Homo sapiens: one gene and its partners. The protein of the gene in region 5 purifies or fractionates together with the protein of the main gene of each other region. This does not show direct contact. Each region holds a gene or a part of one and is shown on either strand. Other genes may lie near its edges.

Region 1 (6,648 bases), on a different chromosome or scaffold from region 5:
CTTCCCTCTAGGTATCTGTGTGTTCTCATCATTTAGCTCCCACCTGTAATTGAGAACGTGCTGTATTTGGTTTTCTCTTCCTATGTTAGTTTGCTAAGGATAATGGCTTTCAACACCATCCATGTCCCTGCAAAGGACATGCTCTCGTTCCTTCTTTTATGGCTGCATATTATTCCATGCTGTTTATGTACCACATTTTAGTTCTTAAAACAACTAAAACAGTCTTTTCCCCAAGACATAAATTTTCAAAAGGGCAGTTAAAGGTTATCTATTACTATTTTCTACCTCCAGAAATGCTTTTGTTTGAAAGGAGGGAGGAAAAGCTTCAATTGAGATTAAGTCCTAATGCCCCAATTTTAAATCTCTCAGCTTGCTCAAGCCCAGCAGGAAAACATGTAGTTTTCAAAGACGGAAGGATCCTGAGAGATAGTAGAATATGCCTGCCACATAATAGGTGTCTGGCTTATGTCTGATGACTAAATGGATAGGAAAAATGGATGAACACAGCTTGGGAGTTCAATATTTTTAAAGAAAACTCCTATAGAGTAGCGCAATACATTTGCAATAGCAATAATCATTTATATTTGCTATTTTAATTTTCATAAATATATAACTCAACTAAAATGATTAATTCATACTTTTTACATGTTAATCTATATATAATGAAAAGATAATTATGGAATAAAATGTATATATAATAAAATCTACAGGAACAGGTAAACACGACCCCTCTTCTTCTGAAGAGGGTAAAAGTTCACAGAAAATAGCCAACCACAGAAATAAAAATAAATAATAGAATGTGAGGAATTATTTGCATCTATGCAAGAAGCATATTCCTTCTCTTCCCAAGGATTATTGCATTAGTAATGAACCTTAACTACAACTTCAGATGTTCATTGCAGAAATCACAGATAAGAGAAAGGGAAAAACTTCACTTACAAATCCCCAGAAACAAGTTTGATTATATTTTCTACAGATTTGCAGCTAACACGAGCAGATTCTGTTCGTGTATATGTGTAACAAACTGATTTTTTTCTCACTTGATATAGCAAAGTACATCTTTGCACGTCGACATATCTCTGTATCTACTGACACCCTCAATAGTTACATATTATTCCATCCTATGGATGCACTGAAATTTGTTCATAAAATCTTTATATGGGTTCTTCTAAATACACTGCTATTTTAAGCAATACTAAGAAAAACACATCTATTTCGTAAAGATATTTCAGTATAATGGAATTGATAAGTAAAAAGCATACACATTTTTAAAATGTAGTTCTTACCACTAAAGTGTCTGTTTGAAAAGCTGCAGCAACTTAAACTTTAAACAACTACATAAGTACCACTGTTCTTCATCCTCACAAACTTTGTGGATGGAAAACAGTATTTCATTCCTTTTTTTTTTTTTTTCTTTTTTTTTTGAGATGGAGTCTCACTCTATCACCCAGGCTGGAATGTAGTGGCGCGATCTCGGCTCACTGCAACCTCCACCTCCCTGGTTCAAGCAATTCTCTTGCTTCAGCCTCCTGAGTAGCTGGGATTACAGGTGCGTGCCACCATGCCCAGCTAATTTTTTGTATTTTTAGTAGAGATGGGATTTCACCACACTGGCCAGGCTGGTCTCAAACTCCTGACTTCATGATCCACCGCCTCAGCCTCCTAAAGTGCTGGGATAACAGGCGTAAGCCACTGCACCCGGCCTTTCATTCCTCTTCTAACTTAAATAGAAAGCAGTATTTCATTCCTCTTCTAACTTAAATTCCTTCTTCTACCAGGAACACTGTATTTTCCTATGTGCATAGGTCACTGGTAGATATGCAAAAAAAGTACTTTGCCCAATTTTAAAATGAGCTTATTTTATTATGTCTGCATATATACACCAGGCACGGTGGCTCACGCCTGTAACCCCAGCACTTGGGGAGGCCAAGGTGGGTGGATCACGAGGACAGGAGTTCAAGACCTGCCTGGCCAAGATGGTGAAACCCCATCTCTAGTAAAAATACAAAACAATTAGCCAGGCATGGTGGCAGGCGCCTGTAATCCCAGCTACTCAGTAGGCTGAAGCAGAGAATTGCTTGAACCTAGGAGGCAGAGGTTGCAGTGAGCCGAGATCACACCACTGCACTCCAGCTTGGGCTACAGAGTGAGACTCCACCAAAAAAAAAAGGATATATATATATATATATATATATATATATATATATATATATATACACACACACACACACACACATATATATGTATATATATACACACACATATATATGTATATATACATATGTATATATATGTATATATGTGTATATATATGTATATATATATATATCTGCGTATATAAATAGGCATTTATATTTTTTCTGGTATGTTTCTCCTTTTGTATGTTTAAAATTTTTAATCTATACTCTTATTTTTGTGACATAAAAATCTAGCTAGTTTTCTCCAAAAATGAATTATGAACAATCCATCTTTTTTAAATAATACAAAACATCACCATTATCAAGTGCTAAATTCTTACATATATTTGGGTATTTCTAAATTTCCTATTCTGTTCTATTCATTGATGTCTTTTCAGCTGTTAGTAAACAATTTGTGGAAATAAATAACACATGCACATTTTGATATCTGGAAAAGCAAGCCTTTTTCCATTCTGTTACAAAAAATTAATTTATCACAATAATAAAAGACAGCATGTGTAATTTAAAAACGCTAAAACTTTGCTATTTTTATTTGGCTTATGTAAAAGTGATAAATAGAAAAAGCTCACATCTTTTTTTTTTTTTTTTTTTTTGAGACGGAATCTCGCTCTGTCTCCCAGGCTGGAGTGCGGTGGCACTATCTTGGCTCACTGCAAGCTCCGCCTCCCGAGTTCACGCCATTCTCCTGCCTCAGCCTCCTGAGTAGCTGGGACTACAGGCACCTGCCACCGTGCCCGGCTAATTTTTTTTATAATTTTTAGTAGAGACAGGGTTTCACCGTGTTAGCCAGGATGGTCTCGATCTCCTGACCTCGTGATCCGCCCGCCTCCCCAAAGTGCTGGGATTACAGGCATGAGCCACCGCGCCCAGCCAAAAAGCTCACATCTTAAGAAAATTCAATCTTCCTATTCAAGCACAGGAACCATCTTCCCATTTCAGTTTCCTTCTAAGGTTCCTCAGTAAAGAACGTATTTACATAGGGTACATTGATATAAAATCCATACTGGATTTTATTTGAAGAATATTTAGCCCTGAAGTTGATGTGTTATGGGGCTTCATTCTTAGTTCTCAATATACACTTTTCTATAATGTATAGAACATTGTTTTAAAATCTGTAGATTAAAAATAATCTGCTGCATTGACTTAATTAATTTTGCAAGTTAAATCACTTTAAAACAGTCTATTAGTGTTCTACGAGGGAAATTATAATTTGATTGGAAATCAGCTAAAGTTTTTTTTGTGTGTGTTGCTGTTCATAAAGGGGCCTGTGCCCTGACCTCTCTGAGGTTTCCACAACCAGGGTGCTGTGAGGCCTGCGGAGGTGAGAAAGCCAGGTCCCCCTCCTCCCCCGCCAGGAGGGTATGTCCCCATCATCCCCCGACCTCCCACCTCCTCCCAGCCCAGGCCTGGTTACCTCTTTTGCTTGTCCTGCTTGTTCACGTCAGTGTCCCTGAGCATGACGATCAGATCCTTTCTGGCGACTTTACCCCACCAGGCAGCTCTGTGGAGCTTGTCCAGATCTTCTCGACGGACGTGGTATCTCGGCTCCACGAAGGCGCTGTCGTCGTAGTCTCCCCAAGCACCCACGTTGCTCTTGCCGCTCCCCCTGCAGCAGGGGAAGCAGTGGCAGCACCACTTGCCCATCTTGCTCCTGAGCGTCTTCATAGCGGAGTCGTCGTGGTCTCCAGAAGTGCCCACGTTGCTCTTGCCACTCCCCCTGCAGCAGGGGAAGCAGTGGCAGCACCACTTGCCCATCTTGCTCCTGAGTGTCTTCATAGTGGAGTCGTCCTGGTCTCCAGAAGTGCCCACGTTGCTCTTGCCGCTCCCCCTGCAGCAGGGGAAGCAGTGGCGGCACCACTTGCCCATCTTGCTCCTGAGAACAAATGGCTTCTTCACAGAAGAGGCAGCCGGCATTGAATCAACCTCAGCTACCATCTGCTTTTAACAGCCTGGGGAGGCCGGTAGTAGCGAGCAGATCACGTCTACCAACCAGTTTCACCAACTAGCAGGTAACTCCGGGTTTCCAATCTGTTTGAAGAGAAAAGTCAATCCCAGCCAAAACCTGCCAACCCCAGCAGGTAAGCCCAACCCACCCCACCCAGGGAAAACCCACACCCACCCGGGGAAAGCCCACGCCCACCCGAGGAAGGGCCAACCCCCCCCCCCAAGAAAACACCCAGCCCACCCAAGGGAATGCCAAACCCAGCAGAGAAAAGGTCAAGCCTAGCAAGGGAACGCGAGAGAGGAAACGCCAATCCAAGGAGGAAACGTCAATCCAAGGAGGAACACCAGGCCAAGCGACCAACACCAAGCCAAGCAAAGAACGCAAAGCCAAGCCAAGCCGCTACAGGCCAGCCAAGCAGTTACCCGCGTGCAGCATGCGCGTGCAAGCCGTTACAGGCCAGCCAAGCCATTACGCGCGTGCGGCGTGCGCGTGCAAGCCGTTACAGGCCAGCCAAACCGCTATGCGCGTGTGGCGTGCGCGTGCAAGCCATTACAAGCCAGCCAAGCCGCTGCCGCGTGCGCGTGCGGCGTGCGCGTGCGGCGTGCAGCGTGTGCATCTCAGGTGGCGTCAGTGCATGTGGCACAGACAGTGGCCAATGCGTGCAACCGCGTGTTTAAATCTTGGCGCCACGAATGTCACCGACAGCCTTATGTTCCTGGCAAACTTCATGGGACTCAGCTGAGCTTTCAGGCCATTGAGAAGCCTCTGGTGAAAAAAAAGCCTCTTGAAGCAGGACTGGGGCTAAGCGGCTGGAACTTGAGGATGCTGACAGCCTCCTCTGAAGAAAGCCCCCAGGACACTCCTGGCGGTGCTGTTGTGCGTGGCAGCGTCTGCAGCTCGGAGCTGGGGCTGGAGGAGCTGGCTGCAAATGGCCTCAAAATCCCGGAGCACAAGATGCCCACTGAGCCCAGCGCCTGCCTGAGGTGCCTTTGACACCTGGTCCTCTTTGCTCTGCACCCAGAACACGAGGCCATCAGCGAGGGGGCATTTGGGGCCACAGGATCGCGGCCAGCTCCTGCCCCGGTGCCCCCTGCCCGGTGTCCAAGCCAGGGCCAACAGCTATAGGGCTTCTGGCCTGGGGGGCTCTGCTCCACTGGCATGCAATAGGGTCAAGGTGCAGACCGCTGTGTCCACGCCGGCAAGAGGGGGCTTGGAGGAGCAGTCACAGGACAGTACTCTCCCCTCCTGTGGATGACTCCTTCCTGCCCTTTCCTCTCTCTGCTAAAGCCTCCAACGTTCTCTGTCCCATCCATATGCTCCACTTATGCCCCTGCTTTTGCTTTGATTTTCTCATTAAAATAAATCTGCAGGCTGGCTGGGTGCAGTGGCTCATGCCTGTAATCCCAGCACTTTGGGAGACCGAGGCAGGTGGATCACCTGAGGTCGGGAGTTCGAGACCAGCCTGACCAACATGGAGAAACCTTGTCTCTACTAAAAATACAAAATTAGCCAGGCGTGGTGGTGCACGCCTGTAATCCCAGCTACTTGGGAGGCTGAGGCAGGAGAATCGCTTGATCCCGAGAGGCGGAGGTTGCGGTGAGCCAAGATACTGCCATTGCACTCCAGCCTGGGCAACAAGAGCAAAAGTCCATCTCATAAATAAATAAATAAATAAATAAATAAATAAATAAATAAATAAATAAAATAGATCTGCAGGCTGCCCCCTCACGGCAACGTGTCTTCCCTGCATTACTGCAGAAGGATGGCCACACCCCTGCCCTGGCGGACTAGACCTCTTAAGGACACCTCTGCCTTCCACCTCACTCCTGAATCACCCACTTCTTCCTCTCTAGTCAGTTGGACAAACGTGCTTTTTCCTGGCCCATCTTTAAAACATCCTCTTCATGCTTCGCTCTCCAGCTGCATCCCATTTCTCTGTTCCCCTGTAGAGCAAAATGGCTCCAAAGCGTGGTCTCGTCTTACCTTGAACACCCCTCCTCCCTCTCGCTATGTGAGCTACTCCAGTTCAGCTCTCCACCTCTGCACTACCCTGAACCTGCTCCTGCCGGCAGCAATGGCCTATGGAGAAGTGCAGCCCCCAGCTGTAAGACAGGGGGCCTCCCTCCCTGCTGCTCCTCAGCACCCCCTGCACGTGGCTTCCTGGACCACTCCTCTCCCGCTCCAAGGCCCCTCCTCCGCGCACATTTCGGGACTCCTGGCTGCCCAAGGCCGCTCTTCTGTTTTCTGTCCACACCTGCTCCCTGGGGTTGCATTTATTCCCGCAGCTCCAAATGCCACCTGCCTGCTCATCGCGCCCCGCCCAGGCCTCTCCCTCGCTAGGAGCGTCTCCTCCGTTTTTCCACTTGATGCTCATAGACACCACCTCTCGCCCTTCCTTCACAGTCAGCTCCAAACAAAACAGTCTCCGTTTCAGTTCATGGCTCCTCAGGACGGAAAACCCCGAGTCCTCCCCGTGTGCTCTTTCTCTCACACCCAGATCCAACC
Region 2 (6,135 bases), on a different chromosome or scaffold from region 5:
TGCTTCAGGGCTTTCTCATTGGCCATCTGCAGGAGCTGGATCTCCTTGCGGGAGAAGAGGCGGATGGCGAACGCTTTCTCCAGCAGCTTCTCAGGGGACACCGTCTTCGCGATGTCTCTGACGAACGTGCGGATGTCCTGCTTCACGCTGTCCGACTCCAGCGGCTGCCCGGCCCTCACCTTGTGGAAGAACTTGAGGATGGCCAGCGCCACGCGGTACAGCACCTTGTAGCCCTCCACCAGGAAGACGTCAAAGACCCGGGCGAAGTAGCAGAGGGGCAGCTCCCCAAACAGCCAGCGCTGCCAGTCCGCATAGACCTGCAGGACATCCTCCGACACGGCCACCATCAGCTTGTGGGCCGCCTGGCAGTACTTGTTCACCAGGTCCCCAAACGTCATGCAGGACGACTCAAAGGCCAGGAAGCTCTGGTCGATCAGCCTCCTGCCGGGGTCATTGCAGGCCAGGATGCGGCAGGCCTTCTCGAAGCACTCGGCCTCGTCGATGCTGTAGTGCAGCAGCAGGGCCACCACGGCCGGCAGGGCGGGGCAGAAGGAGATGTCGGGGAACTGGTTGGCCAGGCACAGGAGGATCTTGCGCACGGCCCCCTCGCCGCGTGCATTCAGGCAGTAGCTGGGCACCTGCGTGTTGTCCACGAACTCGGGCAGCGGCAGGCAGCTGCTGCTGTGCTTGCCCACGATCTTGCCCACGATGTCGCTGTACACGCTGGCGTCAGGCGTGACCGTGCGGCAGGGAATGTCCCGGATCAGGCGCTGGTACACCTTTCCCCGCAGGGCGTGGCTTTGGGCCCAGTAGCCCTGGCGCGCCAGCTGCTTCAGTTCCTGCAGTTCAGTGCAGCTCAGCTCCTTGGGCCCCAGGTCCTGGATGGCAGCGTCCATCTTGTCTTTGTCCACGAAGCAGTTGTATCCTGGAGAGTCCATAGCGCCGCTGTGCTCGGGAGGAGGCCCTGGACTGCCGGAAGGGGAGGACAGAGTGGCTAAATCCTCCAGCCCCCTTTCTGAGGGTTTCCTGCAAACCTGTCTGCCATCTCACACCCTGCAGGATTAAAAAAACACTTTTAGCATCTGTGTTTCAAGGTTCACATTTTAAAGAACGTATTTTTTCAAATGTGGTGTAGTTTTCTTTTCTTTTGAGACAGGGTCTCGCTCTGTTGCCCAGGTTGGAGTGCGGTGCAGTGGCGTGACCCTGCTCTCTGCAGCCTTGAATGGCTTGAACCATCTTCCTGCCTCAGCCTCCTGAGTAGCTGGGACGACAGGTGTCCACCACCATGCCCAGTTAATTTTTTTTTTTGAGATGGAGTCTCACCCTGTCGCCCAGGCTGGAGTACAGTGTCACGATCTCCACTCACGGCAACCTCCTCGCCCCTGGTTCAAGCGATTCTCCAGACTCAGCCTTCTGAGTAGCTGGGACTAAAGGCATGCACCACCATGCCTGGCTAATTTTTTGTATTTTTACTAGAGACAGGGTTTCACCATGTTGGTCAGGCTGGTCTCAAACTCCTGACCTTGTGATGTGCCTGCCTTGGCCTCCCAAAGTGTGGGATTACAGACGAGAGCCACCGCCCTGGCCTAATTTTTTATTTTTTTGTAGAGACAGGGTCTCGCTATGCTCTCCAGGCTGGTCTTGAACTCCTGGGCTCAAGCAATCCTCCTGTCTTGGCCTCCCAAAATGTTGGGATTACAGGCATGAGCCACTGTGCCCGGCCTTGTTTTGTTTTGTTTGAGACAAGGTCTTGTGCTGACATCCAGGCTAGAGTGCAATGGCACCATCTCGGCACACTGCAACTTCTGCCTCCTGGGCTCAGGTGATCCTCCCACCTCAGCTATAGCTGAGACTACAGTTAGGCGCCACCACGCCCAGCTAATTTTTTCTCTTTTTAGTAGAGACGAGATTTTGCCATGTTACCCAGACTGGTCTTAAACTCCTGATCTCAAGCAATCCACCCACCACAGCCTCCCAAAGTGCTGGGATTACAAGTGTGAGCCAGTGCTCCTGGCCTGTTTTTTTGTTTATTATTATTATTATTATTTATTTTGTGTGTGTGTGTGTGTGTGTGTGTGTGTGTGATGGGGTCTTGTTCTGTCACCCAGGTTGGCCTTGAACCGCAGGCCTCAAGTGATCTTCCCACCATGCTGGAATTACGAGTGAGAGTCACGTTGCGCAGCCACATTATTTGCCTTAATCTTTGTGTAAGTATTAGAAGGGCTTCCACTTAAGATAAGTGACTTTTGAGAAGCCGTTACAAACTTTGGAGTATACCTTCTTTTCACAGAACTTATGAAGTTACTGGAATACATCACACAGATTCTGAGTAATGAGAGGCTAGAGATAGAGTTCCCAGAAGGGCTTCAAGAGCTTGGCCCTTGGCTGGGCACAGTGGCTCATATCTATAATCTCAGCTACTCAGGAGGCCAAGGTGGGAGGACTAGTTGAGGCCAGGAGTTCAAGACCAGCCTGGGCAACATGGTGAGACCCCATCTCTACCAAAAAAAGAGGCTGACCCTGCTGAAAACACCTTTCCACTCGAGCATGGTCCACTCCAGGCTCCTAAACACCACCCTGCACCCTGGGGGCCTTCTGAAAAGGAACCCCCAGTTGAGAAGATCACTTTGAGCAAAGAGATGCTTCGTTCTAGTTCTCCCTTTTTTTTTTTTTTTGAGACAGAGTCTTGCACTGTCGCACGGGCTGGAGTGCAGTGGCGTAATCTCGGCTCACTGCAACTTCCGCCTCCCGGGCTCAAGTGATTCTCCTGCCTCAGCCTCCTGAGTAGCTGGGACTACAGGCACCCGCCACCACACCCAGCCAGTTTTTGTATTTTTAGTAGAGATGGGGTTTCACCATGTTGGCCAGGCTGGTCTCGAACTCCTGATCTCGTGATCCACCCACCTCGGCCTCCCAAAGTGTTGGGATTACAGGCGTGAGCCACCACGCCCAGCCCGTTCCCAGTTCTCTTTAACCAGCTGTGTGTGCTAAGAAAGTCACAGCCTATGCTATCCCACCCTGTCGGAATTCTGAAGCCGGCTCTTAACTTTCTAAAACCACCAGCTTGAAAGCTATGCTTCAGGCAGGTGCTCCAGGGAGGAATCTCTGGTGAGGAGCAGGCATTTTCCAGAGGGAGAGCTGGGACCTAAATGGAAGGTGCTGCAGCTTTAAAACTGCACATTTCTGGATCCGAATGGGCCAGAAGTCAAGTGGGGGTGGTTGGTGTTTCTCCAAGAACAGCAACCCCTGGGCTCAGGCAAACATAAAAGGAGTGGGTAAGACGTGCCCTGTGGGATTCTGGACAACAGGTGGCTGCCCTGGCCCAAGGATACCGTCCTGCGCACAGAAGTGCAAGGTTTGCTTACGCACATCAGACTAACCTTTCCACCTGGGATGGTAGAAGTTCCCAGTGTGCCCCAGGGGTCTGCTTCAGCAGGTTTTGGTTGAGTGACCAGACCACTCCGGTTTCTCTTGCAGCTAGAACATTCACCTACCTATTATAAGGCAAATACTGCTTTAAAACAGTTCTTGAAAAGTAAAAATCATAGTGTAAAACGTACGTCTGCGAGACACTGTCTTGGGAAAACACCTCGACACGTGTTTTTGTGTGTGTGGTAAAATACACATAGCATAAAATTTACCATGTTAGGCCGGACGCGGTGGCTCACGCCTGTAATCCCAGCACTTTGGGAGGCCGAGGCGGGTGGATCACGAGGTCAGGAGATCGAGACCATCCTGGCTAACACAGTGAAACCCTGTCTCTACTAAAAATACAAAAAAACTAGCCGGGCGTGGTTGCGGGAGCCTGTAGTACCAGCTACTCGGGAGGCTGAGGCAGGAGAATGACGTGAACCTGGGAGGCGGAGATTGCAGTGAGCCGAGATTGTGCCACTGCACTCCAGCCCAGGCGACAGAGCAAGACTCTGTCTCAAACAAACAAACAAACAAACAAAAAATTTACCATTTTAGCCATTTTTTATTTATTTATTTTTTTGAGACAGAGTGCCGCACTGTCGTCCAGGCTGGAGTGCAGTGGCGTAATCTCAGCTCACTGCAACCTCCGCCTCCCTGGGTTCAAGCGATTCCCCTGCCTCAGCCTCCCAAGTAGCTGGGATTACAGGCATGTGCCACCACGCCCGGCTAATTTTGTATTTTTAGTAGAGACAGGGATTGTCCATGTTGGTCAGGCTGGTCTCGAACTCCCGACCTCAGGTGATCCGCCCGCCTCAGCCTCCCAAAGTGCTGAGATTAGAAGCGTGAGCCACCGAAGTTGATTTTAATGTATCCCACTGGAAAAACCTTGCCCACAGCAGGACTAGGCCTCAGAAGAAAAGAAACCCTTAAGACCATTGATTGGTTTGCTTCGTCCTGGGAGGGAAGGCAGTGAGGGCTCCCCCTTTCCCTGGTCCTGAAGGTCAGGCCGACAGGTCCACTCACATGCGCACAGCCACGCCTGGGTCACACTGCACAATCTTACACGTGTCGGTCGGTTATCCACAGCTTACATCCCTCCTTCCCTGCTATGGGCCCACTAGCCTCTGGAGGAACTCCAGGCCCATCCTGTTTGGGTGAAAGAACTGGCTCCTTCTTAAGGCAATAAACATGTTTCTAAACAGAACAGGAGCTGGGCAGAGCAGCACCAGCCTCCACTCGGCTGGCCCCAGATTCAGGTTGAATATTAAACTGGAAACAGTAAAAGCTGTGGGTGCACCTTGCGAAGTTCCCTTAGGGAGATGCAGATCCCAAGTTGTGTTTACTGCCGCGAATGGTCCGGCGACGTGCTGGACTCACAGGGACCCCCGAGCCAAGGATGTGTGCAAAAGACCCGAGGGAGCCCTTGGATTCTTTCTTGTTCCCCAAACCCTCACTCAAAAAGAGCGCACGACATTTCTGGGGCTGTGCACACAAGGCAACAACCCACTTAAGGCATCTATAAAAACCAGGTCCAGGCCAGCAAAGGGGCTCACATCTGTAATCCCAGCACTTTGGGAGGCTCAGGCAGGAGGATCACTTCAGCCCAGGAGTTCAAGACCAGCCTGGGCAACATAATGAGACCTCATCTCTACCAAAAATAAAAAAAAATGGCCAGGCCTGGTGGCATGCACCTGTAATCCCAGCTATTTGGGAGGCTGAACGGGGACGACCTTTGGACGCCAAGCCCAGGAGTTCAAGACTAGCCCACACAACATGGCAAAACCCCATCTCTACAAAAAAATACCAAAATTAGCCAGGCGGGCCAAGCACGGTGGCTCATGCCTGTAATCCCAGCACTTTGGGAGGCCGAGGCAGGTGGATCACAGGGTTAGGAGTTTGAGACCAGCCTGGCCAGCAGGTAAAACCCCGTCTCTACTAAAAATACAAAAAATTAGCTGGGTGTGGTGGCACATGCCTGTAGTCCCAGCTACGTGGGAGGCTGAGGCAGGAGAATCGCTTGAACCCGGCAGGCAGAGGTTGCAGTGAGCCAAGATGGAGCCACTGCACTCTAGACTGGACGACAGAGTGAGACTCCATCTCAAAAAAAAAAAAAAAAATTAGCCAGGCGTGGTGGCGCATACCTGTAGTCCCAGCTACTCAGGAGGTTAAGGTGGGAGGATCACCAGAGCCCAGGAGGTCAAGGCTGCAGTGGGACCTGATTGTACCACTGAACTCCATCCAGCCTGGGTGACAGAGCAAGACCCTGTCTGAAAAAAAAAATAAAATGAAAACAAAAATAAAAAATAAATACATAAATAAAAACGAGGTCCAGATTGGTTTCCTTAGGTTAAAAAAAAAGTCTTTCATTACGCTGGTGATATTTGAATGCAAAAATCACAAAAAGTCAAATAGTACCAAAATTAGGGAGTAAAAATGTAGAGTTCTGTTTAAATTACCTCTCTAATCCTACTCCCCTTCCACATACAGATAATCGCTATTCACATTTTGGTATATATCCTGCCAAACCTTTTTCTTGCATTCACAACTGAGTGAGGTTTTCTTTAAACTGGCAACTGAGATGAGGAGGTAAGGGGAGGTGGAAACTGATCAAAAACATAAACTATCCCAGGCTGGAGCACTTATGGGCTTGAGTGCCCACACTCTGGAGGTGAGCTTTCACGGCCGAGTGGCTTTCCCTGTTGTCTATCTGCTGGCTGGCTG
Region 3 (6,135 bases), on a different chromosome or scaffold from region 5:
ATCTTCTTTAAACTCTTAAAATAGACCAATTGAACCACGATCTATGTGAAATCAAGTTCAGTTGAAGTATTACTAAACAATTAACTTCACTTAGTATTCCCATCATGGATAGCACTGGACCAATTGGTGACCTCAAAGATTAGACAGTTTTTTAAATTAATTAATAAATTAATTAATATTTATTTATTTATTTTTGAGACAGGGTCTCACTCTGTCACCCAGGCTGGAGTGCAGTGGCACGATCTTGGCTCACTGCAACCCCTGCCTCCTGGGTTCAAGCAATTATTGTGCCTCAGCCTCCCAAGTAGTTGGGATTACAGGTGTGTACCACCATGCCCAGCTCATTTTTTTGTATTTTTAGCAGGGACAGGGTTTCACCATGTTGGGCCAGACTGGTCTTGAACTGCTGACCTCAGGTGATCCGCCTGCCTCGGCCTCCCAAAGTACTGAGATTACAGGCGTGAGCCACCGTGCCCAGCCTAGGCAGTTATTAAGTAGCCACTGCCCCTATAATGCCACTGGCTACCAAGTGAAGATAGAGTCTGTGCCCTTTAGGGAAAAGAGCCCAAGGAAAGGATAACAGAACATATCCAGCTACACACTAGAATCACATGATAGCACTTCAGGGAAAAGACCAATATGAAACAGAACTGGGAATTGTCCCACAAGGACAGCAAATATTAAACACCCCAGAATATTCTAGTGATGTCAAAAATGACCTTACAAAATGATCCAGGTCATGATGGACAGAAAGGGAGCTGGCTGAGCGCTAGCTGTGGCCCTAGCTATTTGACTTTTCTTCCCCAGCTCATCTTTATCCCAGGAGATCCTACTCTATGGCATGAGAATTCTCCCTCTCCACTTGGGCTGCAGACAAACCTTTGTGAGCTAGATTTTTCTGGGCTCTGTGAGTCATAATGTCTCTGATGTCCTCTGATTAATTTTGGTTGTTATCTATGGCCACAGAACTTGGATGAGGAAAGACTTCTAAACAGCAAACAAACAAAACTTGGGGGGCCACAGTAAGTCACTTACAGAAAGTGAATTTACAAGCCAGCTAAATGATTTCTCAAAGTAAAGGCCCTACCTTTCTTTATATAATGTTTGCAGACCTTTATGTTGTAAAGATAAAAGCAGTTTTGAAGATTAAGATATAGGATGTAAATAGAATGTACATATAGGATTTGTGTACATATGGGAAAACTGGTTATTTCACTTTGAGGGAATAGCTTTAATTTAATTTGAAATTGTATTAAGTGGTGGGAATGTAAAATGGTATAGCCACTGTAGAAAACGGTTTGACAGTTTCTCAAAAAGTTAAACAGAGAATTATCGTATGACCCAGGATTTCCACTCCTCGGTATATACCCAAGGGGACTGAAAACACGTTCACACAAAAACATGTAACAAGTGTTCATAGCAGCATTATTCATAATAGCCAGAAAGCAGGAACAACACAAATGACCATCGGCTGACGAAAAGATAAAGAAAATGTGATATATCCCTACAATGGGATACTATTCAGCCATAAGAAGGAATACGGTATTGATAAATGCTACCGCCTCGATGAGCCTTAAAAACATTATACTAAGTAAAAGAAGCTAGACACAAAAATCACAGGTTACATGATTCCAATCAGATGAAATGTCTGGAATAGGAAAACCCACAAACACCTAAAGGAGATAAGTCGTTGCCAGCAGCTGAGGAATGTGAGTCATCAGGGATGTTTTCTAACGGGCACAAGGTTTCTTTCTGGGCTGATAAAAATGCTCTGGAATTAGATAGTGGGATGGTTGCACAACTTCGTGGTTCTACTAAAATGCACAGGCTCGTAAATGTTAAAGTGGTGAATGTTATGGTGTACTACATTACATCTCCATTTTAAAATGTATGAAGTACCTTTACTTACCAAGCACTGCGTTATAGTCTGAAGAAACCACGGAAACAACTGTCCTGCCACTAAGGCACTTACTACCTGGTAGGGAGACACGCAAACAAACAGATACAAATAGCCAAGCATAGAGGTGCTTGGATGGGCATTTGTGTGGTACACAGCAGAGCCCAAAAGAGGAGAGGTCTGGAGAGACTCCACAGGAAAGTTTCACCCGAGCTGAATCTCCAACTGAACTTAAAAAAAAAAATTAATAATCCTTTGGTCTTCTCATGTAATATCAAACAGGGAGAGAGGAGAGCTAGGGTCTTAATCTAACACTACCCTCTGATTATACCATAGACCTTAGGAAAGTCATTTACTTCTCTGGACCTCAGTCTCTTACTTCCTACAAAAGTAAGGTGTTGGCTGGGCACGGTGGCTCACACCTATAACCCCAGTGCTTTGGGAGGCCGAGGCGGGCAGGTCATTTGAGGTCAGGAGTTCAAGACCAGCTTTGGCCAACATGGTGAAACCCCATCTCTACTAAAAATACAAAAATATTAGCCAGGCATGGTGGTGCATGCCTGTAATCCTAGCCACCCAGAAGGCGGAGGCACAGAGAATCGCTGGAACCCGGGAGGCAGAGGCTGCAGTGAGCCAAGATCACACCAGTGTGCTCCAGCCTGGGTGACAGAGCAAGACTCTGTCAAAATAAATAAATAAATAAATAAATAAATAAATAAATAAATAAATAAATAAATAAAGGTGTTGATATCAAAGGTTTATTTCTACCTTTGAGAAATATCTAGAATCCTCGTGCATATCATATCATAGTCTATCTAAAATCCTGACATACTTAAATCCTGATTCTGCAAAGGGTTTCTCTAGTGTATTCTGGGTGTGCTGCTTTCTGAGATTGAGAAAGGAATCTTCCTGCTGGCTACCTCTACACGCCCTAACAAACAGCACACAGACTATGCTTCCTTCCTGTTGGCAGCCTTCATCTTCCACCCCAGGGACAGAATCACCCATCTGCTGACCACGTATTCACCTTATATTACCTTCCTACTGGTAGCCTTCGTCTTGTAGTCCATAGACAAATCAAGCCTGTGCTGGCCACCTGTCCACCCCAATGAGTAACACACAATCCATATCCCCCCTCTTTTTTTTCTTTTTTTTTTTGAGACAAAGTCTCACTTTGTTGTCCAGGCTGGAGTGCAGTAGTGCTATCTCGGCTCACTGCAACCTCTGCCTCCCAGGTTCAAGCAATTTCCCAGCCTCAGCCTCCTGAGTAGCTGGGACTACAGGCGCCCACCACCATGCCAGGCTAATTTTTGTATTTTTTAGTAGAGACGGGGTTTCACTATGTTGGCCAGGCTGGTCTCGACCTCCTGACCTCGTGATTCACCCATCTCGGCCTCCCAAAGTGCTGGGATTACAGGCGTGAGCCACTGTGCCCAGCCTCCACACAATCCATATTCCCTTTCTGTTAGCAGCTTTGTCTTGTACCCATGGCCGTCACAGGTCCATGGCTGATTTGCCAAGTTAACAGGAGTCCATCCATAATAATCAGCACTGGGTCATGCCCCAGAATCATTAGGATCAAAGGATGGGAAATCAGGGATTTCTTTGAAAGTAAGCCACTCTTAGTAAGATTCAAATTTGTTTAAAGCCTGGATTAAAACAATGCCAAACAATAAACTTAAACAGACTGCTTTACCCTCTGACTTTAAATAAGATTAGTTTTTAAGTACATTTAATTAAAACGAATGGGGCATTGCAGCATATTTACTCACTCAAGGAAGTAATTTACATGGGAACATTTCATGTGAAAATAGTTACTTGCCCACATTCCTAGGACTAAAAATAAAATAAACAAAACAAAAAGCAACCATCAATAAAACAAAAAAAAAGCTGGACCAAGTAGATTCAGCCAGTGGAACTAGGTGAAAAGTGTCTTACTTCTACCTTTTTCTTTCCACTCTCAGATCATTGGGCTATTTTCCTTTTACTCGTATTTTGGGTAAATCATATCTATTTTACAGCTCAAATCGCAAATCCTACTTTCTCTTTCCCTTCAGTGATATTTCTTTCCTTTGAAAACTAATTGTATTTGTTATCTAGACAATTATTCAACTTCTCACACATTTGGGTGAGAAGAAGAGGGGGAAGTATTTATCGAGCTCCAACTAAATGCCAGCATTTCTAAAATACGTATTTTCTCTTAGGGCTCATAATACCGCTGCAATGTGGGTAGTATTATCCACATTTTATATACGAGAAAACTAAGGCTCGGACATATTAAGTCACTTGCCCAGGTCACAGAACTGCAAAGAGCAGAGCTGGACTTTGAACTTGGCAGCGAGGTCTGACCCCATAACCCTGAATTTGCAACCAGTTTGCTTTGCAGCTTCTCCTGGCCTCAGCTACTTGAAGGCAGGGGGACAATTTAATGCCGAATTGTATTCTTCGAACATAGTGATTTGATTTCTGCGAACATTCACTCATTCATTTACTCATCACTCACAGCTTTTTTTCCATGCCAGGTACTATAATGGAATAAAAATAAGAGCACAGCTCTCTCCTTGCCCTCAGAGAGGACCTCAGTGTATGAAAAGGGAGAAGCTTATAAACAGGCAACTTGAACAAAGATGTGCAGAGGATGCTATGAAAACACAGAGGAGGACGAGGCAAGAGGTAAGATCAGGCCGGCCCAGAGGAGGAAAAGCTTAACCTGCAGCCTGCTGGGCCTCAGAGAAACTGGGGAGACTGTGCCAGGCAGCAGAATTGCACATACAAAGAGAGGCCCAACGTGAAAGCATCCTTCAAACATCTGTGACAAAGAAGACTGATGCGGGTGTTTGGGGGTTAAGAGTGGGACGTGATAGAAAGGCTTAACCGTCAAGAGCTTGAAACGTATGATTCTGGGAAATATGATTAAACTAATGGAATGAGAAGCCTAGGGAATTGAAAAGGGGTTATTGGTAACTATAAATAAAAAAAAAATGCAAACTATCTAATGCTTTCCCAAATAGCTGAAACCTCAAATCCCTCTCCATTCATGCCCTTGCAAGATGTAGAAGTAACTGGCCACCACCTATCATCTCCATCCTCAGGAGAACAAAAGTTAAAGTAAGACTGCTGTTTGGGGGGAACCATATCCCATCAACAAACCGGATGAGGCCCTGGGGACCCAGCATGCTGGAGGAACAGGAGGCCACAACACAGTGTGTCTCCTTGCCAGCAGCAGATGCCGGTCACTACTTTGCCTCTCAAAGTAGCCTAGTCAAAGCCATCAGTCAGGAGAGCGGGTCTGAGGGCAGGAACCACATGCTGGTCCTTCTTACCAACTTTCCCAGGATGTATTTTTTATGGCTAGCTCAAACACTTCTCTCAAATGTAATAGAGGGCCTTCACAGCTGAGTTTCAGGGTTTGGAGAGAATTAAAACCTTTTCCCTGACACAGACTCTCAATGTTACCAGGAAGATGCTATAGAAAAGCTCCACAGCATCTTGAAGAATATGCTGTCTTTTTGACAACAAAGCCATTTGTGGCCTATGGCCTACTATACCCAAGACGCTTCCCCTAGCCCTCTGACATACAGGTCTGGGGTTGCGGATTAGTGAATGGGGTAAGAAGGGCACACTAAAAGAAAAATATTATAGTGTTATATGTTCTACTTAGTTTGAAAACAGGTTGGTATTGCTTTAAGAAACAATAATGTACCCAAGAGGTTCTCTCACTTACGTGATACCCTGAGTATCTGGGTCTTGGGAAACCATTCCGAGTGAAGACAACACCTGGTGTGCTGCATGTAACAGAAAGGTCTCAGCAGGTGCCTGAATCAGACATGAACCACCTTTCTCTCTTCTGGGATATGAACTGCTTTTCCAGGGAGGGGACTGCCAAGTCTACTTTGGTCCCTGCTCTCCAGTCCAGAACATTCTGCTTTGGGATTTGGACTCAGCTGACAACATAATCACTGAATCCTCTCCAGATATCCTTGGGGCTTTTGATAATAGTGCCAGTCTCTTGTTTGTTTGTCAAGAAGGTAATCGCCCTAAATATGTTCTTTCGTTTGTATGAGACCCAAAAGCTCCAAAGGACAGAAAGAAACACAGGTTCAAAAACTTCACTCTAATTTCCTACAGGAGAGTAAGGGAACATTCCATACAGACAGCTTGTATTTACGAGCTAGAGGAAGGAAATCTTTGCTAATTTTCCTGGCAACAGCAATATACTTTATGGGAGTCTTCAAATT
Region 4 (6,135 bases), on a different chromosome or scaffold from region 5:
ATGCTTGGCACGTTTAAGAAACTGAAGAAAGGAGCCATATGTTTAGATTGTTTTGAGTGAGCACAGAGTACCATAAAATGAAATTAGAGATTTTGTGAAATAGAAGTTTACGTTTTGTTCTCTAAGAGTAGTGGAAAGTTATTAATGAGGTTTGAAAGGCAAATGGGGTCACTGCTGTTTCACCAGATCATTCTAAATGTCATTTATGATACTTAACAAATATAAGTTTTCCCCTTTCCATATAAGCAGTAACAGAATGACTGAAATTAAACAGTCATTACCTAGAGAAAAAATTGCATACTACATCATTTTGTGTATAATTATATGTGGAACCAATAACATAACTAAAAATAACACACAAGATAGCTGACATTGTTTCTGAAAGTGTGATCCAGTGCAATCTGCACCAGAGTCACATTCTTATTAAAAATGCTAATTGCTGCAGATGAATCAGAATTTCTCTGTTGGAGCCTGGAAATAGGCATTTTAACACATATCTCAGGTGATTCTTAGGCATAGTCAAGTTTGAGAATCACTTATATTATACATCTGGTCCTGCATAGCACTTATCAGTATTGAAATTTTACATTTAATTGTTTGACTATTTTAATTAATATTACTGCCCCTCACTAAACTATAAGCACATACAAGTGCAAAAACCATTCTGGTTTTGCTCACAGTTTTATTTTTAGTACTCTTCCCTGGTATATAGAATAGTCAAAATTGGTTGGGTATGTTGAATGGATAAATGAATGAACAAACATTAAGATGGATGGATGGCTCTGGATTTGCTTCATTTTGGTAAAAATTCTTTAAATATAATGGTGGACTGCAAGCATTAGTCTTGAAAATAGGAAGTAAAAGTTCGCAAATAAAAAGAAACAAACAAACAGAAAAGAGAAATAAGTCAATCTTATATGCCAAAAATAGAGCTTCATTGTTGGGGATGGGGGTTGGGGAGGAGTAGAGATCAATGGGGATACGCTGAGGCTTACAAGTCCTTCTTGAAACTCATAATCACAACCTTAAATGAACATTGAATACTTCTAAGCAATCCTACTGTGTTTCTCTAGGAGGCTTATTTCCTATCAAGAGAGTTGTTGCAACCAGGGTATGTCATCTATTGGTGACATAAGCTATAAGGAAATGTTATGATAGAAATTCCTATACCATGAGCTTTAAGTATTCTGGAGGCTAATATTGAAAGGGGATATCGTAGAAGCCAAACCCTTTGTGATGGCTTTATGAGACATGCTGTCCTCCTGTACTTAGATTGTTACTAGTTACATGAATTATCAATTCTACTCCAGATTGGATTAAGAAAACAAAAGGTGCATATTCTAGTTGGCTGTTTGGTTGTTTTCCTCTGTGTTTCCAGATTAGTTGATTATGAACAATAGTTACAATACATTGATTTTGTTTCTACACCTAAAGTTTATGATGTTAACTTTTTAAAAAATAAAAAATGTATTTAGTACATGCTTTATATGATTGGAGGGATAATGAAACATAATTATTTAAAAATAACATTTAAGTTGTGCCTGTAACTTTGATGTCTTTGATGCAAATCATAAATGTGTGGATTTTGTTAGGGCCTATTGTAATGTTATTCCCCAACAGACTAAAACACTGTGTATTTATATATGTATATATATAAATATATATGTATATATATTTTTTCTTTCTGGGGGATTACTTTCTTTTAGATGATGGATTTAGAAGAGGTAATACCCCTGGATTGCTGTCGCCTTGTTAAATATGATGAGTTTCATGATTATCTAGAACGGTCATATGAAGGAGAAGAAGATACACCAATGGGGCTTCTACTAGGTGGCGTCAAGTCAACATATATGTTTGATCTGCTGTTGGAGACGAGAAAGCCTGATCAGGTTTTCCAATCTTATAAACCTGGAGGTGAGCAATTTTACACTATTTTTAGTTGTTCTGTACTTAGAATTTTCATGAGAAAGTTTTTTTTTTTATTGTAGAAATGAACATAATTTAAATTTTGTATATGGTCTTAAAATGTAGAATAATTTTGACAGGTTGAGAAGTACTCAGCAACAGCTTGGAATTAAGTTCTAGATTACTTGCAAAGAGTTGTGTACATAATTTTAAAAACAACAAAAAACAACAAAGCTTCTAGCTTACGGTCTTCAGTGGGTTTTTTCTTCTCCAGTGGGCGGTACTGAATCATTCTGGATGCTGTCAATCCCTAAAGTTATCAATTGCTCTCTTAGGAAGATCTCTCTTTCTCTTTCTTTCTCTTTATGGAGAAGACCTTGGTCCAAAAAAGTATATTCCCATAAAGTCTCAGAAGTAGAGGCTGTTTTTCAGGTCTTCTTTGGAAGGGTGGATTCATTATCCCATCACTGTCAGCATTTACAATTTTTCGTCATCCTCTCTATTTCTACAGGTCCCAGGGACTTCATCTTTTCTTTCTTCATTAAATCTATCACATTCACTCAGCACATTGAGTTTGTTATTTTTTTTTCTTTGAGACTGCTTAGGAAAACCAAAATATCATGCCCCTAGTTTTCCCAGAGACAGTTTCCCTATAGACAGTTACATGGTCTGTTTTTGTCCAGAGTTTTCTATAATTACCATATGTAAATTGTAACAAATAGAAGAAAAGCAGAATGTTTATATAATTTTACAAAATCCATACTGTTTTGTCTTGGCCCTAACTCCTTTGCATCAGTGGTTAGTGAGAATTAGGTTCTCTGTGTTTTTTCCCTAAAAGTTGAACTTACAAAACTTTATTCTGCCCTTTTACAATAATGTTCTTCTGTGGATCCTGTATATCTCCTTTTTAAATGAAGGCCTCTGTTTACAGAGTAGGTTAGATGTAGTATTCTTTCAAGGAGTCTACGGCTCTTAAGTGGGAAAATTTTATTTCTGGAAACCTTATGATGTCTACTTCGACTTCTAAGACTCTACCCTATCTATAAAGAGTCCCTTAAGGACATTTCCTTGCTTTTTTTTTTTTTTTGCTAGACAAGAAAAAGAATGATTAGGATATAACATGAGTCAGCAGTAATACCACTTATTTGAAAGAGAACTCTAAATGCAAGTGTGGATTGTAAGACTTATAAAGTAGTCTTTATTCATTAATAATCAAGATCTTAGCAGAATATTTTGTCAAATTTAGATTAACAACGTAGGGAAAAAACTGAGGATTGACATAAAACATGAGGTTAAAACAGATACAGAATAACTGTGTATTAAGTACAATGTTTGAAGATCATTTATTTTTCAAGTGATTAAGAGTTTAATTGTAAACATAACCTTCTGAAAACAGAAGAGAATGGGATTAAATTTCAATATAAAAGATTTAAGTGAGAAAACAAAGGCATAATCAGAACAGTTTTTGTGTGGAATTTTCCTTGGGATATAGGAAATATTATTTTGAGGATAAGTCTTTGATGATGAACAAGGTGGCTTAATAAGGGGTTTGTTCAAAAGCAAGCAGGAGTGCTGTGTCACCTTTAATATTTGTTTTGCAGTAACTGGTGATTTATATTTATTCAGTGTTGTTTTCATCTGTACTTGGAAGTTTGGATTTGTCACCTGTTAGAAACACATTAAGAATGCATTACTCATGTGAAATACATTAAAAAATAACCTCCAATTCTGTGTTTATGTCTTCAAATGTGACAGAAGTGATGGTGAAAGTTCATGTTGTTGATCTAAAGGCAGAATCTGTAGCTGCTCCTATAACTGTTCGTGCTTACTTAAATCAGACAGTTACAGAATTCAAACAACTGATTTCAAAGGTAAGTTTTAAAAGGGGTCTGTAAATAAATTTTTGAGAGCCTGCTATGTACAAGACACACTATGTGACAGTTATGAATAAGATACATGCTTTACCTCCAGGAGCTAATTAATATTTGTAGTTAGGAGACAACTGTAGTTAAAAGAAACAGATTGAGTAAAGTGTGGAGGTAAGAAAGTGTAAGGCAAGTACATATAACAACTTATATGTGTTGGCTGGATTATCATAAAATACAGGATTGGAAATGTAAGTACAGTTTATTTCATGAAGAGCTTTAAACAGTAAACACGAAAGTTTGGGCTCCTTTTTGGCGTAGGCAATAAGTCGAGTTTTTGTTTTCGTCATTTTTAAGTGCGGCAATGCTGCATTTAGTGTCTGGTGACACTAGACTAGCGTTCCACATGCCTTGAGGGGAGTCAGGAATGGAGAGGAGGAAGCTGTTGAAATAATTCAAGTGCAGTTGTATGACTGGAAATGAGAGAAGGCATGGATTCCAAGAGAGATAGAATCTGTAGGACTTGTAATTGTTAAATGTTGGGGTAAAGCAGATGCACCGATGACCTGAGCCAGGGGTTTCAAACTTGGGTAACCAGAAAAGTAGGGATACATTAATAGAAATAGAGGAGGAAGGTGAGGCTGTAGACTTGACAGGGAAGGTGATGAATTAAATACTGGTGCCATTATGTGAGCTAGTGATAAAGAACATAGGCTCATTCCGATTTTTTGAGCTGGAAAAATATAACAATGAAAACATTCAAATTTTGGGGGGCAAAAGGATTAGTCCACACCAGACAAATGATTATCATCCTTACAAGGGTCCTGTACTCTGCAGAACCCTGAGCATACAAACGGCAGATTTTGCAGGGTTCTTGAACCGTAGGTTAATATTCCCTGGTGTAGTGGAAATTGTTCCATAATTACAAGTTGAGTCCAGTTTTCAGTCATTCATCTTATGGTAGTCTTGTCTTTCATCTCATTATCTGGGGTTGTAAATACCTGTTTAGCAGAGTTGTAGTGAACATTAATGAAAAATAAATAAATGCTCTGAGGAAAAAAATTGTAAGGCATTATGTAAGAGTTGGTGGTTATTATGTTCTAAAAAAAAGTCTATATTTTGACTTCTGTATATGACTTCTAACAATTTTGCTAAAGTAATAACCAAGAAACAAATCATTTTGTGAAATTATATTTTATGATTAAATTGCTTGTAAATGCATACTATGTTGGTATAATATACTGTATATTACATTTTTAAAATATGAATGACAAATGTAAAAAAAATTAGTTTAATAAGCACTCACACATAATACAAAAGAAAGAGACACAGTAGTTTCTTCCCCAAGAAGTTAATAATCTTACTGAGAAAAATATGTCTATAGAGAATAAAGGCAGTCACAAAACATCATGTAAACAAATACAGTATTTTTAACCAGCCTGCTTAAGAATTAGGTATTTATAACTGATGACCTTAGTTGCATTGAAAAGAAATTGTGTTTTTTAAATGTAAAGTATTTTTATCTGCTGCTTTCATGTCAATTTATAAAATGACTCCAAAAATTAAAGATGTGGACTTTCAGAAAAACTTAAAATTTTCCCTACTAATCTTCTCATTTTACACAAAGGAAAATTGCTTATTGCTTTAATAAAAGTATTAAAAACTATTCACAGACTATAGAAAGGCCTGTCAAAAGCCAAGAAGTTCAACATTTTGATATCAGCAGTCAAAAAGTCAGTTACGCAGTTTCTTTGGAATCAGATCACTCATTTACTTGGCAAGTTTGAGAGCAATAGAGATTCTAGGAAAAAATCCTTACCTTTAAAATAGTTTCAGAGCATACATTTATAAATGGTACTTTGTTCTCCTGATTTGCAGTATAATTTATGGCTATAAGTAATTTTTCCCTTCAATTATTCAAAAATTTTAAAACCTCTACTAAAATTATGTTTCTCTCTGCTGCTTTTAAGAAGAACTCAGCAGTGTCTTGCTTTCCCATATTTTTAAGTCAAGCAGAATTATTTTTGAAAGAGTACTTTTTATTAAATTGCTTTCATTATAGGCCATCCATTTACCTGCTGAAACAATGAGAATAGTGCTGGAACGCTGCTACAATGATTTGCGTCTTCTCAGTGTCTCCAGTAAAACCCTGAAAGCTGAAGGATTTTTTAGAAGTAACAAGGTATGTCATTTACTTTTTCATTACTATTTTCTATGCTGGTAGTAGTAAATGAAATTAGGTTCAATATTATAAGCCTGGCCTCCACAGCTGTTCAACATCTGTCTGGAACTTAATTTAAAATTCTCAACCCAGTAATTACCTTCCTTTGTAGTCAGGTCAGGTCAGGCTCCCTTCTGTCCTGTG
Region 5 (5,164 bases):
GCCCGCCTGCCACCTCCCACCTCTCACTCCCTCCTCCCTGACTTCCTGCCCCTCAGGGGAAGGAGCTGAGCACCTGAGCATGAAGGAGGCCCAAATGCTGCCTCTACCACTCAACTGGGCACGCCTCTGCGGCTCCCACCTCCTCACTCCACGCTGTGGCTCTGGCCCCATCCGGGACCCTCCAGCCCACCTCAGTCCCACCCCCAGGCACGGACTCCCCCACTGCAGGCCTGGCGGGCTCCTGGCCAGCAGTGGTGTTCTGTCCACTGCATGAGCTCCCCACGCAGAGCCCCCACCTGCCGGATCCCCTCCCCTATGGGCTGGGGGCTCACAGCAGGCGTGTCTGGAGGCAAAGCTGCACCCACATGGTCAGGCAATGGACACTTGCCGGGTGGACCCACAGGTCCTGCTCCAAGTTCTGCAAAAACGGCTCTAGTCCTCACTGTGCTGTGACCGACTAGCATCAGCCCTTTGGGGTCCCCTGTTGCCACTTGTGAAGGACACGAAATCCCAGGGCCCTTCCTTAGGGTCGGTGCCCTGTGGACTACGCCTAGTGTCCACACACTTGGGCCAGGCACGCCTGGAACCATCAGGACTCCAGAAGCGGGAAAGGAGGCAGCAGCTGGGGGCCTTGCTCTACCCCAGAATCAGCCCAGGTCTCTGACCACACGTGGCTCAGCAGGTCCCCTCCGGCTGAGCCACCAGGCCCTGTACAGACCCCACCCCACTCGGGACCCTGGCCACAAAGGCACACACCTCCTAACAGACACCCACTTGGTTTTGGGCTGTTTATTTTCCCATCAGAGCAGTTTCCCGGCCCGCGAGACAGAGGGGACACAAACGCAGCAAGGGCGGCCGCAGAAGGGCACCGCTGGCACGGGGTGGCCCCAATGACCGAGTCCAGGAAAGCTCGATCCGCACGGAAGGCAGCACCCGTGCTCCCCGCTGGAGGCGGTATGTGTCCCTGAAATCCACGGTCAGGCTTGTGCGGAAGAAATCGAGGCCCGGAAGTCCAGGAGGGGCGCCCCACGGCCGGGAGCGGGAAGGGTCCGGAGGCAGGAGGGCGGCGCCTACGTGTCGGGGTCCAGCCAGCGGCACTGCTCCTCCAGCACCCCGCGGAACACCTGGAAGCGGTGGTTGAGGTCGGGCCGTGCGTGGATGCGGAAGCGGGTGCCCAGGGCGCCGTCGGGCGAGGGCGCACCGTAGAAGACGCGCAGGATGCGTGCGTGCACCAGGGCCATGGCGCACATGGCGCAGGGCTCGCGGGTCACGTACAGGTCGTAGCCAGTGCACAGGTAGGGGAGGCCGTCCTCGTCTGCGTCCAGTTTACGCACGGCGCCTGCGCGGACGGCCTGGGGGGCAGCGGCCGGGGCGAAGGAGCAGGCGGGGAAGGGTCTGAAGTCGTAGGTGCCGCGGCCCTGGCCGCGCGCCACGAGGTCCACGCACACCATGACGGCGTGCAGGAGGGGGTTGTCCGCGCAGCTGCAGTCGTGGCCGGTGGCCAGCACGCGGTCCGAGGCCGGGTCCACTACCACGGCCCCCACGGCCCGCAAGCCCCGCGCTGCTGCCCGCCGGGCCGCCCACACCGCCCGCTCCATGTGGCTCTGCATGGCGGCGCGCTCCTGCGTGGAGAAGAGCCGCCCAGCCAGGGCGCTGGTCACCTGCTTGTCCTCGTGGAAGGACGTGGGCCAGTGGGCCCGGGCCTCCTCGAACTGGCCCCTGGTCAGAGGCGGCCGGGCGGGCACGGGCACCAGGAAGGGTTGCCCCAGGCCGCGGGGGTCCACAGCCGGCCGTGGCAGGAGCTCAGCCAGCGAGCGCGGGCCCGAGGCCGGCCCAGCCAGGCAAAGCAGCATCTCCAGGGCGTGGGGGCTGCCGGCATCGCGGCTGGGCCGCACCCGCTTGAGGTGAGGCTGGGCGGGGAGCGGGTGCAGGGCCGACACCTCCTTCAGGAGGCGTGAGGTCTGGCGCTTGTCCAGGACGGGCGCGGCGTAGGCCAGCACCAGCTCCACGTCCCCTGACTGCTTCTCGGACAGGACAGGGAGGGCCTGCCACGGCGCCGGCTCAGGCTCCGGGCTCCCGGCCTCCAAGCACTTGGGCTGCTCCACGAGGCCCGGGGCGGGCTCCATCCTCAGCGAGGCCGACTGTGGGAGACAGAGACGGGAGCAGAGGATCATCCGGCGGCTGCGGGCGGCTGGGGGAGAGCCGGGGAGTCCGTCCCGGGAGGCCGTGGCTCCACAAGGCAGGGCGTGCTGCCACCAAAGCTGAGGCTAGTCCGAGGGCTCCGGCCCAGGTCACCGCATCAGAGCTACACTCCCTCATGTCCTGCTAACCCCTGGTGTGCACAGAGTTTAAACAGCCATTGGTTTTTAAAAACGAAGATATAATTCACCTACCAGAAGACAGATCATTTTCTTTTTTTTTTATTTTATTTTTTTACTTCTGAGACGGAGTCTCGCTGTCGCCCAGGCTGGAGTACAGTGGCATGATCTCAGCTCACTGCAACCTCCGCCTCCCGGGTTCAAGCTATTCTCATGCCTCAGCCTCCAGAGTAACTGGGATTACAGGCATGCGCCACCACGCCCGACTAATTTTTGTGTATTTTTAGTAGAGATGGGATTTCACCACGTCGTTCAGGCTGGTCTCGAACTCCTAACCTCACGTGATCCACCCGCTTCAACCTGGTGGTGGGATTACAGGTGTGAGTCACTGCGCCCAGCCAAGACAGGTCATTTTCAAAAGCACAATTCATGGCTAGGTACCAGCGGCTCACGCCTGTAATCCCAGCACTATGGGAGGCCGAGGTGGGGGGATCACTTGAGCCCAGGAGTTTAAGACCAGCCTAGGCAACATAACAACACCCCATTTCTACTAAATATCAAAAAATTAGCTGGGCGTGGTGGCACACACCGGTGGTTTCAGCTACTCGAGAAGCTGAAACAGGAGGAGCACTTGAGGCCGGAAATTCAAGGCTGCAGTGAGCTACAATCGTGCCACTGTACCCCAGCCTGGCTGACAGAGCAAGATGCCATCTCAAAAAAAAAATGAAAACCCGGGCACGGTGGCTCACGCCTGTAATCCTAGCACTTTGGGAGGCCGAGGCAGGCGGATCACAAGGTCAGGAGATCAAGACCATCCTGGCTAACACGGTGAAACCCCGTCTCTACTAAAAATACAAAGAATTGGCCAGGCCTGGTGGCACGCACCTGTAGTCCCAGCTACTAGGGAGGCTGAGGCTTGCAGGAGAACCCAGAAGGTTGAACCTGGGAGGCGCAGGTTACATTGAGCCGAGATCGCGCCACTGCACTCCAGCCTGGTAACAGCGCGAGACTGTCAAAAAACAACAAAAAAGCCAGGCGTGGTGGCTTAAGCCTGTAATCCCAGCACTTTGGGAGGCTGAGGCGGGCAGATCATGAGGCCACGAGATCGAGACCAGCCTGACCAACATGGTGAAACCCCATCTCTACTAAAAATACAAAAATTAGCTGGGCATGGTGCCACGCACCTGTAATCCCAGCTACTCAGGAAGCTGAGGCAAGAGAATTGCTTGAACCTGGGAGGCAGAGGTTGCAGTGAGCCGAGATCGTGCCACTGCACTCCAGCCTGGTGACAGAGCGAGACTCTGTCTCAAAAAAAAAAAAAAAAAAAAGACACCTCAAAAACCAAAAACTATCAAGTGTCCTATTCAGTGGCTCTTAGGACACTTGGAGTTGTGCAACCATCACCACTATAAAATTCCAGAACATTCCATCACCCCTAAGAGAAAACTTGTCTCACCACCCTACAACACACACAGCAACCCAGGCAACCACTGATGTGATCTCTGCATCTCCAGAAGCCAGAGCCTGGAAGCAGAAGCGGGGACAGGCGGCGCCTGGCTTCCAGACAGAAGGGCCATGTGGCCAGGAACTGAGCAGGACCCTTGGTCCCCCGGCCGCAAGCTGCTGAATTCCGCCAACGCCTGCGTGAGTTGCAAGCAGATGCCACCCCCGTTGAGCCTCCAGATGACAACACAGCCCTGGCTGACACCTGGGTTCCAGCCCGGTGAGACCCCGCAGAGAGGAGCCAGCCATGTCACATTCAGGCCCCGACCCACAGAACCGGGAGCTGGCGGGTGTTGTATTAAGCCCACAGATGCACGGAGTCTGCTATGCAGTGACAGAAAGCAAGCATGCCAAGTGTGGGGGACACGGGGCCCCCTCCCAGAACAGCACACAGCCTGGCACTGACACGGAACACCCACCTCCAGTGGTTTCTGTAAACACTCGCCCCCTAGTCGGCCAAGGGCTAGGAAAAGAGAGACCTCAGAAGACAAGCCACGAAACGTAAGCCCCGGAGCGCAGCCCCTCCCCTGGTGGGCCCGACTTCCCATCCCTTGACCACATTCCTGCAGCTGTGGTGGGCCCTGGCTGTCGGGTGGAGCAGGCAGCCACTGGGGTGTCCCTGCTTACTCAGTCACAGAGGAGGCCCTGGCTGGAGTGGGGCTGCGGGAAGAGCTGGGATCACTCCCGGGGCTCCTGCTAACATCCCTGACTGCCGGGCAGTGTGCCAAGGCGGCTCTCGGGTGAGAACCTCCCGGCCTGACATCACCAGCACTGTTACCATCCCTGCCGCTGGCACAGGTGAGGACATCCCTGCTGCTGGCACAGGTGAAGACATCCCAGCCACTGGCACAGGTGAGGACGGGAGGCAGTAAAGCCGTTACCATCCCTGCTGCTGGCACAGGTGAGGACAGGAGATAGTAGAGCCATTACCATCCCTGCTGCTGGCACAGGTGGACATGAGGCAGTAGGGCCACTCCACTGGAGAGGAAGGGCTGGTGGGGCCCCCAGCTCTCGGGATCCGCCCATTAGAAGGGAGCCTGCCCTAGGCGGGCAGACAGCACAGCAGAGAGGCAGGCGTGGGGACAGCCAGCCTGCAGGGACTGCTCACAGGGCCCTGGGGGACAGCGCCTCTGGCTCCCACATCTCTGGCATCCACCCCACCTGAACACCCCCAAACCACAGTCTCAGCTGGCCAGCCTTCCCCCACCTGCATCTGCCCCCACAGACTCGCACCGCAGGCCTGAGGTTGGATTACAGGCGTAAGCCACCATGCCCAGCCCACATTTTTTTTTTTTTCAGACAGAGTCTCACTCTGTTGCCCAGGCTGGAGTGCAGTGGCATGA

What was found.
Region 1: the proteins of ADAT3 (region 5) and POTEI purify together in Homo sapiens (affinity purification with mass spectrometry; one large-scale study listed by BioGRID and IntAct). This does not show direct contact.
Region 2: the proteins of ADAT3 (region 5) and TBC1D24 purify together in Homo sapiens (affinity purification with mass spectrometry; one large-scale study listed by BioGRID and IntAct). This does not show direct contact.
Region 3: the proteins of ADAT3 (region 5) and ABLIM1 purify together in Homo sapiens (affinity purification with mass spectrometry; one large-scale study listed by BioGRID and IntAct). This does not show direct contact.
Region 4: the proteins of ADAT3 (region 5) and USP47 purify together in Homo sapiens (affinity purification with mass spectrometry; one large-scale study listed by BioGRID and IntAct). This does not show direct contact.

The regions. Positions count from the first base shown.
Region 1 is NC_000002.12:130,505,103-130,511,750, forward strand, and holds the start of POTEI (POTE ankyrin domain family member I), read right to left. Parts: upstream 4,227-6,648; 5' UTR 4,134-4,226; coding exon 3,613-4,133; intron 1-3,612.
Region 2 is NC_000016.10:2,490,952-2,497,086, reverse strand, and holds part of TBC1D24 (TBC1 domain family member 24), read right to left. Parts: intron 1,054-6,135; 5' UTR 939-1,053; coding exon 1-938. UniProt on the Homo sapiens protein: May act as a GTPase-activating protein for Rab family protein(s). Involved in neuronal projections development, probably through a negative modulation of ARF6 function. Involved in the regulation of synaptic vesicle trafficking.
Region 3 is NC_000010.11:114,646,819-114,652,953, forward strand, and holds part of ABLIM1 (actin-binding LIM protein 1), read right to left. Parts: intron 1-6,135. UniProt on the Homo sapiens protein: May act as scaffold protein. May play a role in the development of the retina. Has been suggested to play a role in axon guidance.
Region 4 is NC_000011.10:11,934,597-11,940,731, forward strand, and holds part of USP47 (ubiquitin carboxyl-terminal hydrolase 47), read left to right. Parts: intron 1-1,706; coding exon 1,707-1,914; intron 1,915-3,660; coding exon 3,661-3,776; intron 3,777-5,832; coding exon 5,833-5,952; intron 5,953-6,135. UniProt on the Homo sapiens protein: Ubiquitin-specific protease that specifically deubiquitinates monoubiquitinated DNA polymerase beta (POLB), stabilizing POLB thereby playing a role in base-excision repair (BER). Acts as a regulator of cell growth and genome integrity.
Region 5 is NC_000019.10:1,909,058-1,914,221, reverse strand, and holds the end of ADAT3 (probable inactive tRNA-specific adenosine deaminase-like protein 3), read right to left. Parts: intron 2,333-5,164; 5' UTR 2,175-2,332; coding exon 1,071-2,174; 3' UTR 775-1,070; downstream 1-774.